2 separate regions of the Homo sapiens genome follow, and region 2 is linked to region 1. The links come from fine-mapping of genetic effects on gene expression. Tissue or cell type: spinal cord. Region 1 holds a variant in brackets; the other region holds the start of a gene. All regions are shown on one strand. Distances are between the middles of the regions.

What was found. PIP is the estimated chance that this variant, and not a neighbour inherited with it, causes the effect.
Region 2: it holds the start of WDR27, and the variant in region 1 is fine-mapped to the expression of WDR27 in spinal cord (GTEx, PIP 0.95).

What each region holds. Positions count from the first base shown.
Region 1 is chr6:169,673,848-169,682,027 of GRCh38, reverse strand. The region is part of intron 2 of WDR27 (WD repeat domain 27); the gene reads left to right. Among named protein-coding and RNA genes, the nearest start is that of WDR27, 24 kb to the left of the region's middle. The variant C/T (reference allele first, on the strand shown) is at 4,801.
Region 2 is chr6:169,698,016-169,706,195 of GRCh38, reverse strand. It overlaps WDR27 (WD repeat domain 27), which reads left to right and starts at 4,167. Exons shown (of 26, transcript NM_182552.5): 1 at 4,167-4,645. C6orf120 (chromosome 6 open reading frame 120) reads right to left here and starts at 4,070. Exons shown (of 1, transcript NM_001029863.3): 1 at 1-4,070. The coding sequence starts at 3,736. The coding sequence ends at 3,161. It overlaps PHF10 (PHD finger protein 10), which reads left to right. Exons shown (of 12, transcript NM_018288.4): 10 at 472-580; 11 at 875-1,063; 12 at 2,108-2,294. The coding sequence ends at 2,193. RefSeq lists a silencer at 3,704-4,073 and enhancers at 4,124-4,213, 4,534-4,613.

The DNA of each region.
Region 1 (8,180 bases):
GGAAGTCCCTGCAGAGATGAGATAGTTCCCCGATTTCAACAGGAGGAGTTGGAGCTGGGACTGGGCCCCCTTATGATCTGCTGTGGGTGGGAGACTAGAGAGGTCTAGTTGGCACAGAGGAGCATGCATCTCCTAGCAGGTCTCAGCACAGATGGGATAGTTCCCTGAGTGCAGCAGAAGAGCCCAGAGCTGAGATTGGGTACCCTCAGGATCTGTCATGGGAGGAAGTGTGGCGAGCCTGCCAGGGAGGGCTGAGACTCCCAGGTTGCAAGATACGGGCAAGTCTCCCTGTGGGTCTTTGTGTAAGCAGCTCTTACCTGGGACCTCAGATGAGGGAATTGGAGCGAAGCCACAGGGCAGCTTTCAGGTTCATTGCCTAGACCATTGTCAACAGGCAGATGAGCCCTTCCATCAGTTAGTAGAGTGTGTGATTCCTGCCAGACCCTTTGGCTGTTGGTTTTGTTTTCAGGCTCAAGGCCAAATGAGGTGGTAACCAAGCCCCTTGGAGGACTGGGCCATTTCTGGGCTTGAAGCTACGAGCACGCTTAGTGAATCAGCCACCTAGGTGTGGGTCTCAACTCTCAAAATGACCTTCTAAGATCTTGGCTCTGCTGGGGTTTCACAACTTCCACCTGAATTCTGAGGCTCTTGTAGAGAGACTTTGGACCATGGATGGGTGCAGAATTTTTGTTATTGTCGGGAGATATGAGTGGGTTAGCTTCTATTTCACCAGCTTGGTGATGTCCGATACTTACTCATTTTGTCTGGCTTTCTTCACTCAGGATAATTGAGATCCATGTTCCTGCATTCAGTAGTTCATTCTTCTTTATTATTGAGTAATATTCATTGTATGGATATACTATACTTTATGCATTCTCCTATTGGTGGGAATTTAGGTTATTTTTAGTTTTTGACTATTGCAAGTAACACTATTAGGAATAATTGTGTTTGTGTCTTTTGTTTTATAAATGTCAGTTAGGTTGAGGTGGCTAATAGTGTTCTTCAAGTCTTCTATATTCTTGAGGATTTCATGTCCAGTTGTTCAGTCAGTTATTGAAAGAGGCATATTGAAATCTGTGACTCTGTGAACTTATCTGTCTTCCATTAGTTTTTACTTTATGTATTTTGAAACTCTGTTATTAAGCACATATGTGTTTAGTATATTTTATGTCCTGTTGAACTGACTTCATTTATTATAAAGTGATACTGTTTTTTGATCCCTGGTAATATTCTTGCTCTGAAATCTTCTTTGGCTACTTTCTATTTTCGTTAATGTTAGCATTGTATCTCTTTCATTTCCTCTCTCACAACTTTTATGTTTTTGTTGTCATGCATTTTACTTTTGCATATGCTACAAACCTGACAATCCATTATTACTTTTGTTAAACATTCAGGGATCTTTTAAAGATATTTAAACAATAAGAAAAATATCTTCTTTTTTCTTTTGAGATGGAGTCTTGCTCTGTCACCCAGGCTGGAGTGCAGTGGCGCAATCTTGGCTCACTGCAAGCTCCGCCTCCCGGGTTCACGTCATTCTCCTGCCTCAGCCTCCCGAGTAGCTGGGACTACAGGCGGCCATCACCAAGCCCCGCTAATTTTTTGTATTTTTAGTAGAGACAGGGTTTCACCGTGTTAGCCAGGATGGTCTCGATCTCCTGACCTCGTGATACACCTGCCTCGGCCTCCCAAAGTACTTGGATTACAGGCGTGAGCCACTGCGCCTGGCCTTTTCTTTTTTAATTTTAAGGCTCTTAAATTTAAGAAGGAAAAATATCTTACACATCTACCCACGTAATTATATTTTTGGTGCTCTTCATTCCTTTGTGTACATGCATGTTTCCGTCTGGTAGCATTTTCCTTCTGCCTGAAGTATTTTATTTAACATATGTTTCAGTGCAAATATGGTGATAAATTATTTCAGCCTTTGTGTGTTTAAAAAAGTTTTTATTTTGCCTTGTTTTTGAAAGGCATTTATATTGAGTAGAGAATTCTAGTTTGACAGATTTTTCTTCAGGTTTTTAATATGTTGCTCTTCTATCATTTCAATGAGAATTCTGTTATTATCTTTATCTTTGTTCTCATGTATACAATGGGTTATATTTGTCTGGCTGCCTTTAAAACTTCCTATGTTACCAATTTTGAACAATTTGATCATGCTATGTTTTGGTGTATTTTTCTTCATATTTCTCATTCTTGCATGTATTAGGCCATTTCTGTATTGCTATAAAGAAATACCTGAGACTGGATAATTTATAAAGAAAAGAGATTTAATTGGCTCATGGTTCTGCAGACTGTACAAGCATGACACCAACGTCTGCTTTGCTTTTAATTAGGACTGCAGGAACCTTACAGTCATGGCAGAAGGTGAAGAGGGAGCAGGTACTTCACAGGGTGAAAACAGGAACAAGTGGTCAGGAGGAGGTGCCATACACTTTTAAATGACCAGATTTCATGAGAACTCACTCACTGTGGTGAGGACAGCATTAAGCCATGAGGGATCAGCCGGCATGACCCAAACACCTCCCACCAGACCCCACCTCCAACACTGGGGATTACATCTCCACATGAGATTTGCAGGGGACATGCAGACTATATCATTCTACTCCTGGTCCCCTACATTTTATGTCCTTCTCACATTGCAAAATATAATCATGTCTTTCCAACAGTCCCCCAAAGTCTTGTCGACGAAAAGAGTCAAACTTTGTAAAATATTTTAAGAGATTTATTTTGAGCCAAGTATGAGTGACCATGGCCTGTGACATAGCCCTCAGGAGGTCCTGAGAACGTGTGCCCAAGGTGGTCAGGGCACAGCTTCATTTTATATATTTCAGGGAGGCATGAGACATCAATCAAATACACTTAAGAAATACATTGATTTCATTCAGAAAGGCGAGACCACTCAAAGCGGGGGCTTCCAGGCTATAGGTAAATTTAAACATTTTCTGGTTGACAGTTGGTTGAGTTTATCTAAAGATCTGAGATCGATAGAAAGGAATGTTCAGGTTAAGCTAAAGGATTGTGGAGACCATGTTTTACTCTGCAGAGTAAGCTCTCAGATAGCAGACTTCAGAGAGAGCAGGTTGTAAATTGTTTCTTTTTGGACTTAAAAAGGGTGCCTGGCTCTTAGTTGATTATCTCCTGGATCTGGAAAGGAAGGAAGGAAAACAAAGGGAAAAGGGGTTTCTCTATAGAATGTGGATTTTTACCACAAGAGACTTTGCAGGACAATTTCAAGGTATGGCAAGGAAATATATTTTGAGGTAAAACATTTTGATTTTCTTCCTTGTTATGCCAGAGTCAGATTGGAAAGTCAGCCACGATAGAAAGGGTCAAATAAAACTCATCTGCTGAGAATTTATGGTTGGTAGGGCATGACTCCCCAGACCCCTTAGAAAGGAATTTGGGCAAGATAAAAAAAAATCAGAGCTTAATCCTCAGCCTTAACTTGTTCCAGCATCAACTCAATCAAAAGTCCCAAGTCCTAAGTCCAAAGTTTCATCTGAGACAAGGCAAGTTCCTTCCACCTATGAGCCTGTAAAATAAAAAACAAGTTATTTACTCCCAATATACAAAGGGATTATAGGCATTGGATAAACATTCCCATTTCCAAAGGGAGAAATTGGCCAAAAGAGAGGAGCTATAGGCCCCATGCAAGTCTGAAACCCAGCAGGACAGTCATTAAATCATAAAGCTCCAAAATTATCTCTATTGACTCTGTGTCCCACATCCAGAGCACACTGGTACAAGGGGTGGACTCCCAAGGCCTGGGGCAGCTCTGTCCCTGTGGCTTTGCAAGGTTCAGCCCTTGTGGCTGCTTTCACTGGTTGCTGAGTGCCTACGGCTTTTCTAGGAGCAGGGTGTAAGCTGCTGGAATATCTGCCATCCTGGGGTCTGGATGATGGTGCCCCTCTTCTCACAGCTCTAGTAGGCAGTGCCTCAGTGGGGACTCTGTGTGGGGGCTCCAACTCCACATTTCCCCTTGGCATTGGCACTGCCCTAGTAGAAGCTCTCTGTGAAGGCTCCACTCCTGCAGCAGGCTTCTGCCTTGGCACCCAGGCATTCTCACAAATCCTCTGAAACCTAGCTGGAGGCTGCTAAGCCTCCTTTACTCTTGTACTCTGTGCACCCGCAGGCTTAATACCACATGGAAACCACCAAGGCCTGTGGCTTGCACCCTCTGAAACAGCAGCCCAAGCTGTATCTGGGGTCCTCTGAGCTGAGGCCAGAGCTGGAGACGGGAGCAGTGTCCTGAGGCTGTGTGGGGCAGCAGGCCCTGGCCGTCAAAACCATTCTTTCCTCCTAGACTTCAGGGCCTGTAATGGGAGGGACTGCCTTGGAGATATCTGGAATGTCTTGGAGGCCTTTCCCATTGCCTTGGTTATCAGCCTTTGGTTCTTTTTTTAGTTACACAAATATCTTAAGTAAATGGTTGCTCCACAGCCTGCTTGAATTCCTCTCACCAAAAACAGTTACTTTTTGCCACATGGCTGGGCTGCAAATTTTCTGAACTTTTATGCTCTGCTTTCCTTTTAAATATAAATTCCAACTGTATGGCATTTCTTTGCTCCCATTTATGATTGTATGTTGTTAGAAGCATCCAGGAGACATCTTACATGCTTTGCTGATTAGAAATTTCTTCCTTCAGGTACACTAGGCCATCACTCAAGTTTAAGCTTCCACAGAGCCCTAGGGCATGAACAGAATGTAGCCAAGCTCTTTGCTGTGGCATAACAAGAGTGACCTTTGCTCCAGTTCCCAGCAAGTTCATTTCCATCTGAGACTTCCTCAGCCTAGACTTCA[C/T]TGTCTTTACCACTATCAGTGTTTTGGTCACAGTCATTTAACTGGTATCTAAGAAGTTCCAAAGTTTCCCTCAGCATCTCGTCTTCCTCTGAGCCCTCCAAACTCTTCCAACTTCTGCTGGTTACTCAGGTCCAAAGCCACTTCCACGTTTTTAGGTATCTTTATAGCAGTGCCCCACTTCTTGGTACCAATTTTCTGTATTAGGCCTTTCATGAATTGCTATGTCAATGAAAGCATCAAAGTCTGTAAAATATTTGAAGAGATTTATTCTGAGTCAACTACGAGCGACCAGAGGCCCAAGGCACAGTCTTGAGGTCCTGAGAACATGTGCGTGATGGTCAGGCTACAGCTTGGATTTATACAATTTAGGGAGACATAAGACATCAATCAATACATGTAATATGTACATTGCTTAGGTCCAGAAAGGTGGGACAGTTCAAAGTGGGGGCTTCCAGGTCATAGGTGGATTCGATAATTTTCTAAATTGCAATTGGTTGAAAGTGTTAAGTTATTGTCTAAAGACCTAGACTCAATAGAAGGAATGTCTGGGTTAAGATAACGGATCGTGGAGACCAAGGTCCCCAATATACATAAGAAGCCTCCAGGTGGCAGGCTTCAGAGAGAATAGATTGTAAATATTTATTAGACTTAAAAAGTGCCAGAGTCTTAGTGGTTACTCTTCTGGATCAGGAAAAAGGCCTACAAAGGAAAGGGGATCTTCTGCAGAATGTAGATTTTCCCCACAAGAGACAGCTTCGCAGGCCTATGTCAAGATATGGTAAAGAAACATAATTGGAGTTAACATATTTTAATTCCCTTCTTTATCTGTCATGTGATGTTATGCCAGAGTTAGGTTGGAAAGTAAGCCACGTTATATAGGGTTAAATAAAATCCTCTGATGAGACTTTATGGTTTTTAGTGTGTGAATCCTTAAGCCCCTTAGATAGGAATTTGGACAGGAGAAGAAAAAGGTCAGAGTTTAGTCCTGAGTATAACAAAATACCTGAGACTGGGTAATTTATAAAGAAAAGAGATTTAATTGGCTCATGGTTCTGCAGGCTGCACAAGTGAGGACTAAACTCTGATTTTTTATCTTGCCCAAATTCCTACCTAAGGGGCCTAGGGAGTCATGCCCTACAAACCATAAATTCTGATTAGATGGGTTTTATTTGACCCCGTATATCATGACTTACTTTTCAGTCTGACTCTGGCATAACATTATGAGATAAGGAAAAAATATTCAACCCCAAAATATATTTCCTTGCCATACCTTGAAATTGCCTTGCAAAGTCTCTTGTGGAAAAATCCATATTCTATAGAGAATCCCCTTTTCCCTTTGTTTTCCTTCATTCCTTCCCAGATCCAGGAGATAATTGAGTAAGAGCCAAGTACCCTTTTAAGTCCGATAAGAAAAATTTTACAGCCTGCAGTCTCTGAAGTCTATCTGAGAGCTTCCTCTGCACAATAAAACATGGTATCCACAATCCTTTATCTTAACCTGAATATTCCTATCGATCTCAGATCTTTAGATAAACAACCAATTGTCAACCAGAAAATGTTTAAATTTACCTATAGCCTGGAAGCCCCCGCTTTGAGTTGTCCCGCCTTTCTGAACGAAACCAATGTATTTCTTAAGTGTATTTGATTGATGTCTCATGCCTCCCTAAAGTACATAAAACCAAGCTGTACCCCAACCACCTTGGGTACATGTTCTCAGGACCTCCTGAGGGCTGTGTCATGGACCATGGTCACTCATATTTGGTTCAGAATAAATCTCTTAAAATATTTTACAAAGTTCGACTCTTTTGTCGACACAAGCATGGCACCAACAAATGCTTGGCTTCTGGTGAGGGCCTCAGGAACCTTACAATCATGGTGGAAGGCAAAGGGAAAACAGGCATGTCATATGGCAAAAACAGGAGCAAGGCATGGGGGGAGGTACCACACACTTTTAAATGATCAGATCTCATGAGAACTCACCATGGTGAGGATGGCACCATGCCATGAGGGATCTGCCCCCATGACCCATACACCTCCCAGCAGGCCCTACCGCCAACACTGGGGATTACATCTCAACGTGGGATTTGGAGGGTGTCAGGCCTCTGAGCCCAAGCTCGGCCATCATATCCCCTGTGACCTGCATGTACACATCCAGATGGCTGGTTCCTGCCTTAACTGATGACATTCCACCACAAAAGAAGTGAAAATGGCCTGTTCCCGCCTTAACTGATGACATTGTCTTGTGAAATTCCTTCTCCTGGCTCATCCTGGCTCAAAAGCTCCCCCACTGAGTACTTTGTGACCCCTACTCCTGCCCGCCAGAGAACAACTCCCCTTTTTCCTTTACCTACCCAAATCCTATAAAACCCCACCCCATTGCCCTTTGCTAACTCTCTTTTCGGACTCAGCCCGCCTGCACCCAGGTGATTAAAAGCTTTATTGCTCACACAAAGCCTGTTTGGTGGTCTCTTCACATGGACGCGCATGAAAGAGGGGACATCCAAACTTTATCATTGGGGTTCTACGGGTTTATGGTTTTCATCAAAATTTGGAAAATTTTCAGCCATTATTTCTTCAAATATTCCCCTCCTCCCAAACGTTGTGGACCCTGCTTACATGTATGTCAGGTCACGTGAAGTTTCCCACAGCTCACTGATACTCTTTCATGGTTATGAATGTATTTTTTCTCTCTTTCATTTTTATATAGCTTCTATTGCTTTGTCTTTAAATTTACCAATCTTTTCCTCAGCAACATCTAATATGCAGTTAATCCCACTAAGTGTTTTTTAAAATTTTATCTTATTCTAGTTTTCATCTCCAGAAGTTAGGTTTGGGACTTTTAAATATCTTCTATGCCTCTACTTAACTTTTGAACATATGGAAAATGTTTTAATAATGGTTTGAATGTTCTTGTCTAGTAATTCTAACATTTGGATCAGTTTTAGTTTGGTTTCAAGTCTTATCTGGATGACTTGTAGGCATCGCATTTCTCTATTCTTTATTTTTCTTTGTTTTTGACTAAATGGTCTTGTCTCCTTGAATACCTGGTTGTTTTTTAGATTGCTGGATTTTGTATATGAAAAAAAAGTATAGCTGATTTGATACTCTGGATTCTTACATTCTTCCAAATCAGATTTATGTTAGCTTCTGGTAGCCAGTCATGCTCAGGGCACTGGCAGTCCTAGATTACCCTAAGCCAGTCAGGTGTTAAGTCAATTCATAACTGGGTGTCAGTTCTTATGAGGGTTGTTTTATTTCCAGTTCATCTTTACTCCTTGGGTTTTGTCTTTTTTGGGGTTCCCATTCTAAGCCTAGGGGGTTTAGCAGCATGCTCATCCCTCTCACCTTAGTAGATTGTATTCTAGGCAGACATTTACTTA
Region 2 (8,180 bases), 24 kb before region 1:
CTGATTTTTTAACTTAGATTTTATAGCTCTAGTTTTGCAGTTTTGGAAAATAGCAGGTTTTAAACAAAATTAATATATGAGCTATTTAAAATGGTCTTTTTAGAGTAAGTCTTACACATAATGGTCATTTGCTACTTGGATTTTCTTGTCCAATTAATAGTGACATTTGACATTGTATTTAGTCTTTCCTTCCATTCATTAAACAAATCTTACTGTGCATGTAGGGAGTATAGAATGCTACATTTAATCTTACGAGATCATGCTGTTTACCAAATTTTATGATGAAATTAATGCTTTCTTCAGTAGGCAGTCTTACATTGTAGGCAGACTCCTGTCAAGTTTTGTCTTTCAAAATGGTCCTCATTAGCAAGTTACCAAAAGTAAAAATAGGGCAATAAAGTAACAGAATTCCTTTTAAACCCATAGTAAGCTCTTCTGGCATGAATTTATAGCCCTCTTCTACCCTTCCAGCCAAAGGTCATTCCAAATGCTATATGTGGAATTTGTCTGAAGGGTAAGGAGTCCAACAAGAAAGGAAAGGCTGAATCACTTATACACTGCTCCCAATGTGAGAATAGTGGTAAGTATTGAAATGTCTTTTTAAAATTTTAACCACCGTATTTATTGGTTCAAAAACTAGAATTTATAGTTTCAGGCAGATTTCAACCAAAGAGTCACCAAATTAAATACACAGGGTAGCTTGTGAGGCATAGACACAGCCCATGTGTTTTCCTCTACATTGTATATTCATTTCTCTTTGGCGATTTGACATTATAGCCATTCTCTGGAAGTCCTAAAGCAAACTAGTATTTTATGTGCCATATTAAGTTAAAATTTCTTATGTGAGATACCACTAATACTGGTTTTGATTTAGGCCATCCTTCTTGCCTGGATATGACAATGGAGCTTGTTTCTATGATTAAGACCTACCCATGGCAGTGTATGGAATGTAAAACATGCATTATATGTGGACAACCCCACCATGAAGAAGAAATGATGTTCTGTGATATGTGTGACAGAGGTTATCATACTTTTTGTGTGGGCCTTGGTGCTATTCCATCAGGTAAAGATTAAAAAAAGAGCAAACATTATCTTTGGGTGATGAGACTCTCCCAGCACTCCAAAAGGCTGCATAAACGCTATCATGACATGAAGAGCTTGTGGACTCTTATGTGCAAATATGACCAAAGCTGTGATTATACAGGTCATGTCCACCAGCTTTTCATCCCTAGACAATTCCAACTAAAGGATAAGTGAAAGGCCAGAATGCCCCTGCTAAGTTTTGGAAGTATAGTTCTATAGAATGAGCTGGTGTTTTTCTACTGAAATACTAAAGTAACAAAGCCTTTATTTTTATATGTTATCTATTTAGAAACAACAAAATGACTGCTACGTCTTTATACATTTCTATAGAAATCTATTATAGATTTCTGTAAATTGAGGCAGCATGACAATTCCAGATAACTTTAGAACAGAGTTGAATAAATCACAGTAATTGGACTAAAACATTACACAGATAATTGTGTAATTTTAGAACTTACTTGCATAGTTAACACTGTATAATACTCTTATAAAATATATGCCTACAACGAAGTTTCCTGGGAATCATTAAGCAAGCAACATAATTATTTTTCTGTAGTAATTCAGATCAAGTATGTAGTACAAGTTATCATTGTGCTGTTAAAGTTTTAAAGTGCTGTCAGCAGAGTACACCAGGACTTGAAAGAATGCTGTTAAGACACACAGCTGCCAGTGAGCAGGAGAGAAAAAGTCTTAAAAAAGCCAAATTCCGGAATGGGTTTTGACCTTTTGAAGTATGATAGTGTTTGAATTTCAGGAAAGATTGTACTTTCTTAAAGGTCCGTATCACCGTATGGCATTGCATCTCTCCCATCCCCCTTGACTTGCAATGAATTTTGCATGGCATTGATTACATTGATTAAGTTTACATTTTTTCCTTAAATTAAGGAACTCATAGTGCCCTTCTCACCACAAAATCCAGAGAGGAATATCATTAGTGATAGCTAAGGCAGAAGAGTTTAGATGGGCTTAAAATTCAGTCCTGTAAAGATAATTTTTCATTCTATATTAACAATTTTTTTCCTAGGTCGCTGGATTTGTGACTGTTGTCAGCGGGCCCCCCCAACACCCAGGAAAGTGGGCAGAAGGGGGAAAAACAGCAAAGAGGGATAAAATAGTTTTTGACTCTAATACTGTATATGCATTTAAGTGGAATATTTGGTGCCATTTACAACATTATTTTCATGCCAATAAAAGATTTTTTTTGCAAATTATGAGCTTAAAATCTGCAGTTATTTCTGTTAAAAGCTACGCTTACTCTCGAAACTAACTCCAGGTAGAGAATTCATCTTCCAAAGTATTTTATAGTAACCTTGGCTCACTCCAAAAATTCAGTGGAAATGTTTAGTAACTTAAGATACTTAACTGTTTCTCCATAGCCCCAAAAGTTAATTTTCATGAAACTTCCTAATCTACATTGTTTCCGGCCTACCATAGGTAGCACTGACAAAGTTATTTAATAACTGAAGAATTTTCATAGGTATGACAAATGGCCCACTAAGATTTGGTGCAGCTGGATTTAGAGTTGTCATTATTGGACTGGTACAGGAACAAACTTTGTAAATACCTGCCTGCCAGGAAATCCTTTTTGTATAGAAAAGTACCATCACCTACTTGGGGTACAGGCATGAGGCTTTAGTCCAGGCTCAGGGAAGTGTACGTAAATCATTTCCAACTTGATTTTAGTAACTCTTGAAAACTTACACCAACTTCGGTTAGAATCTCCAGAGTAAAATTACAAAGTTATCAACCTTTTGATTTGTGTCACAGCATGAAAGGTTGCTCTATTTTATATAAACCTGTTACTGCAATCATTTTTAGTCAACCTGCCTAATGAAAATGGAGTCTAAACACTTTGTGCACAGTCCTTTTATAGGAATTATGATCTTTAAAATACTGTGCTTGCTGCTTTTCCTATTTTTGGGGTAACTGAGGTAACAAAACTGCGTATGGCTTTATTTTTCCATCCCTTGACTAAAGGTACCTAGAACTTCAACCAAGTACAAGTAGCAAGGTTCACAGCAAACTGCAATCAGCTTCACAGATGGAGGGTTTTATATCCCAGAGTGTGGTCAACGACTCAAAAGAGAATTTCAAGTACCAGTTTCAAAATGCTAATTAATATCGTCCAGAGAACAGATTCCTCCTCTTGCGAGGCGTCTTCCGGGGCACCAGCGTGCTTCTGGCCGGCATCTGCGCCGTCGGCGGGGTAGGCGGCCTCGCCGAACGGGTGCTGCTCGACCGTGCCGTCGTAGTACACCTTCATCTCGAACTCGCTCTCCAGGTGGGAGGGGTGTCCATAGACGCCGATGCCCACTGGGCGCCGGAAGTGCGCGGGGATGGACACGGCGTCCGGGCCGCAGGTGGCCGATTGCAGCTCGTAGTCGTCGAAGCTGGGGTGCAGGCTGCTGGCGGAGACGTACAGATCCGCATCTCCCTTGAGGCTGCGCATCCTGAGGACTATCTTGCCCTCGTGGTTCAGCCGCAGGTAGCTGTAGTTCCCGGCGCCTATCTGGCCCTGGACGACGTGCAGGAGCACCCACTCCTCGGGGACCTCCTCCTCGTCCGCGCAGCTTCCCGGAGACAGGACCTGCGAGGCTAGGAGCAGCAGCAGGGCCGTCGTCCAGGGCGCGGCCCTCCCGCGGGGAGCGGCCATGGCTGGCGGCTCAGCTCCGGGGCCTGCAAGTGGGTCAGTGCTGCTGGGGACACCGGAGGCGCTCAGCACCGGAGCCTGTCCCCGCCGTCCGCACGCGGGTCCACGGCGCGTCCAGGCGCCTGGTCTGTCGCTGGGACTGTCCCTTCCCACCCGCGTGAGGCCCCGGGGAGGAGGGGTGGGTTAACCCCTCCCCCGTAGCGCGGCGCCCACTCAGGGCAGGGGCAGGGGCAGGGGCAGGGCCGCTGTGGCACCCTCGGACTCACCACCACTCCCCGCAGGGGGCCGCGCTTTATACATCCGGACCCGAGGCCGGAGCCTCGCCGGAGGCGGAAGTGACGCTAGGTCCGTAAGTGAGCCGGCCGGAAGCGAGGCTTCTCCAGCTGTCGCGAGATAGCGAAAGGGGCGTGGGCGCGAGGGGCGGCGGGCTAGTAACCATAGCGGCTCGCGTGGGTCGGCTGGCAAGTAACCATAGCGGCGAGCGTGGGGCGGAGTGTGGCTCGGTAGTCCTCTGCGTGCCCTCCTGGGAGCTGGGTGCTGTGAGTCCTCCCCTAGCGGGCTGGTCTCGGCGCGGAGTCGGCGCCGAACCCGAGCTGCTGCTCTGGGGCGTGTGCCTAGGGCGCAGGGCTGGAGCGCGGGGGCTGCGCGGTTGCTCGCGGCTCCGCTGAGGTCTCTAGGAAAGGGGGCGATTTGAGGGTTCCGCCGTGACCGCTTCCAACGGCGGACACGCGCGCTCTGGACCAGAGCCGTTGCCCGCTGTCTCGTCACCCGAAGCCTCCTCCTGACGCCGTGCTAGTGCGAGGGTCTCCAGGGGAATTCGGGGCACAAGTCGGGCCGGAGCATCCGGGCGGCCGCTTGAGATCGGCGCTTTGAGAACTGAGCGCATGTGGAGTTCGGAGGAAAAGGGCTCAGGTGGTTATTTTAATTAAAGCAGCTGTGTATAAGGAGCACTCAGATCTCTTTAAAAGATTCAGTAGTTTAGGAACGAACCAGGGCTGTAGAAATGCCCGGCCTCCTGCACCTCCCGTCGGTTCTGAGCTCCGAGGGCGGGAGCGTGGACCCTGAGGGCTCGTTAATTATGCCCCACTGGCCTTTCAACCTGCGTGGTAACTACCAGGCTAGGTTTTCCTAACTCGAGCCAAACAGCAAGTTTCTGACTTGATTATCACTAAAAGAGAAAAATTTCGATCTTTTCTAATCAGAAGGGAGTAATTTTCTCTTTTTAAAAATATTCGTATGTACATTAAAAAAACGGAAATGCACAGGATTTTATCAGTGGTACTCCTCGAGTAGTAGAGTTTTCATCTTTTTATGTATTTCTAAATTTTCTACAATTTACACACACTGCTCTGTACCAGTAAAGGAGTATTAACTCTACAGCTTCCAGTTTATCTGGGATTACTATCTTGTGTTTACTGACTTAACTTTAAGACTATGGTATCTTTAGCAATCACTTGTCACTGCCTTTTCCTGAAGTGCTTACCTAGTGTTAGGTGCACTAGAATCTCACTAAAATAATAAATTTAGTTTATTTTCCCTGACTTGTTCTGTGCATGTATGTACATGGATATTCCTGGGGATATCCTGTGACATTGATTATCCCCTAGGGTTGGCACAGCAGGGAGAGGAGGTAGGGATAAAAAACTTTATTATTTCTGCATTGTTTAAATGTTTTGTATTGTATTGCTTTTGTAATTCAAAAAAATGTTAAACAATTTATATTAGTGGAGGTAGGTTAAGTGCTGTAGCAATTCACCCCAATAGAACAGTTGCATGTTTCTTGCTCACACAGTCCTGTGTAGCGGTTTCTAGTCAGACGATTCCTTTGGGCAGCTCTCTGCAAGCTGCAGCCTAAAATTCTTCCATGTTGTGGTTTTTTTCCTTAGGCCCTCTGAATTCTCCGCATTTAGCCAGTGGGTGGGGAAAGAAGAGAGGCAGTGCAGGAGGAATTTATGGGCCAGGCACTCAACGACTACATGGCTGCACTTAATTGCAAGGGAAGCTAGGGAGTGTAGTTTAGTTCTGTGTCTAGAAGGAAAGGGAAGTGGCTTAGTGGAAAAGGAACAGCACTTACCGTAGTCTCTCTTCTGGTGACCAGATCTCTGCTCCACTCTTGATCCCACATGGAGAACACACTCTCCCCACCCCAAGGGGGACACTTTGTCAAGGTGCCTAGTGCAACACAGAACATTTCTCAGGATTGCACAGTTCTCTCCATCAGGCCTGGCTGTGGTTCCTCGTGGTCCAGAGCCCTATGGACTAAGAAGACAAACTAGTTGCTCTCCCCACTAAAATGCAGTGGTTAAATATGACCATGGTTTTTGTAACCATCTCCCTTTTGGAAAAGGGAGACACATGGCAGACACTGGTCTATAGCAGTTTTGAAGTGATGCTGGGGTGGAGGTGGGAGGAATTTCCCAACTAGACCCTGATTCTGCTATCTGGGAGGAATTCCCTTGTCCATTGTTCTTTTTCTTTCCTTTGAGACAGGATGTCACTGTTGTCCAGGTTGAAGTAGAGTGGCACAATCACAGCTCACTATAGCTTCAACCTCCGTGGCTCAAACGATCCTCCCACCTCAGCCTCCCCAGCAGCTGGGGCTACAAGCATGCACTGCCACACCTGACTACTTTTTTTTTTTAAAGTAGAGACAGGGTCTCACTATGTTGCCCAGGCTGGTCTTGAACTCCTGGGCTCAAGTGATCCTTCTGCCTCGGCCCCACAAAGTGCTGGGATTGCAGATGTGAGCCACTGTGCCTGGCTTGTTTGCTGAGGCCCTTGATTCTACCCTTAGTCCTTTTCCTCCACGGTCTCATCTGATGTGGCTATGAGGATGCTGTCTTGGAAGGCTGCCATAGCTCACTCCTGGAGCATGGCAGTGGGGACCAGGCAGTCAGCCCTGAGCCCACCGTGTGCCCTTACTCTGTTCTTTGCTTGATACTTCTTAGGCTTCATCGTGTCCTCACGAGCACAGCAGCTTCTGGTCTGTGTGTATCTCGTCAGCTCTGTGTGCTGGTGATGCCATTGTCGTTCTTCCTGTGTCTACTGTTCAAGCCTGACTTTATTTTCTTTTGGTCTCCTGGGCAGCTGATACCCTGAGGTTATGTGGAACAAAGGCTTGAGTGGGAAGGTAGCCATCCTAGGTCAGATCTTTGCTGAAGGGCCAAGACCTGATGGTCCTTTGTCCCTCCCTGCAGCCTCTCAGGGCACTCAGGTTTCCCAGTGCTGCAGCCCCTGCTCTTCGTACTTTCTTTTCGTGTCCATTCCGCTTGCACACCAGCCAGTTCTCTAGTCCAATTCCGTGTGTTGGCTGCTAATGCGTATTCTTTGCAATAATTTCCTGTAGGGCTGCAGGAGAGTAAGCCTGTGGTAAGTTTTCTGCGTTATTACAGGTTGTTGCAGTTGAACCTGTTTGTCACTGCCTAACGTGAGTCTTGAGCTTTTCCCCTCCTGAATTTGTTTCTGTGCCCCATCACTCAGTCACTCAGCAACATCCTACAGTGTCACTGAAGCATCCTGCTTCAAGGTACCCACATCAGTCAAGGTAGGCTGACAGAAGTGACCTCAGCTTCATGCACTAAATGTTTCTCTCTTGCTTACACAACAGTCCAGCCTGGTGTCCTGATCACCCTTTAGTGGGAGCAGCACAGGCTGCCAGGTGCCACCACCGTGGCCCCTCTCCTCAGCCTTTGGAGCCCTCCGCCTCCAGCATGAAGGGCTGTGCACGGGCTGTGACAGGACCAAGCCTGTGCATGCATGGTGTGCTTTCCAGACCAGAAATTGGTGCACGGCTGCCCTCGACTTCAGAGGCTGGAAATGTGGTCCAGCCATGTTCTTAGTGGCTCCAGGGAAGAAGCAGAAAGAGCTTGGGGAAAACTGCCAGACCACAGAAATAGAAAAATGAATATTTTAACATATAGAAAAATAACTTTTTACACAAATGATTTTAGGGGCCATCTGACCTCTGTTCAATGGGAGGATAGGTTGCACTTCAGTTAGCTGCCCTGGACTCATGTTCTCGACGTGGACACGTGTGTGTATGTGTGTGTGTGTGTCGGTGTGTCCCTGACGATGTTTCTGCCTGCACCAGACCCTCCCTCATCCCTGTCTGTACCACCCTGCCATGGAGCAGGAGAGGCAGGAGAGGTAGGCATTAAAGCCGAGTACACTGAGGCAGAGGTAGGCATTGAAGCCGAATACACTGAGGCAGAGGTAGGCATTGAAGCTGAGAACACTGAGGAACAGAGGTGTTGGGCAGCTGGAGAGGTGGGACATCAGCTCGTGCACACTGGGGCCAGACTGACCCAGAAATTCTGAGTGCAGGCTGGTGCTTCCTCGTCAAGGTGGCTTATGTGTCCTGACAAGGCTTCCTTCCCTCCTTGGCTTCACACCATTGTTTCTGTGAACTCTTCATACTAGTGAGTCATGGTGTTATTTCTTTACTATG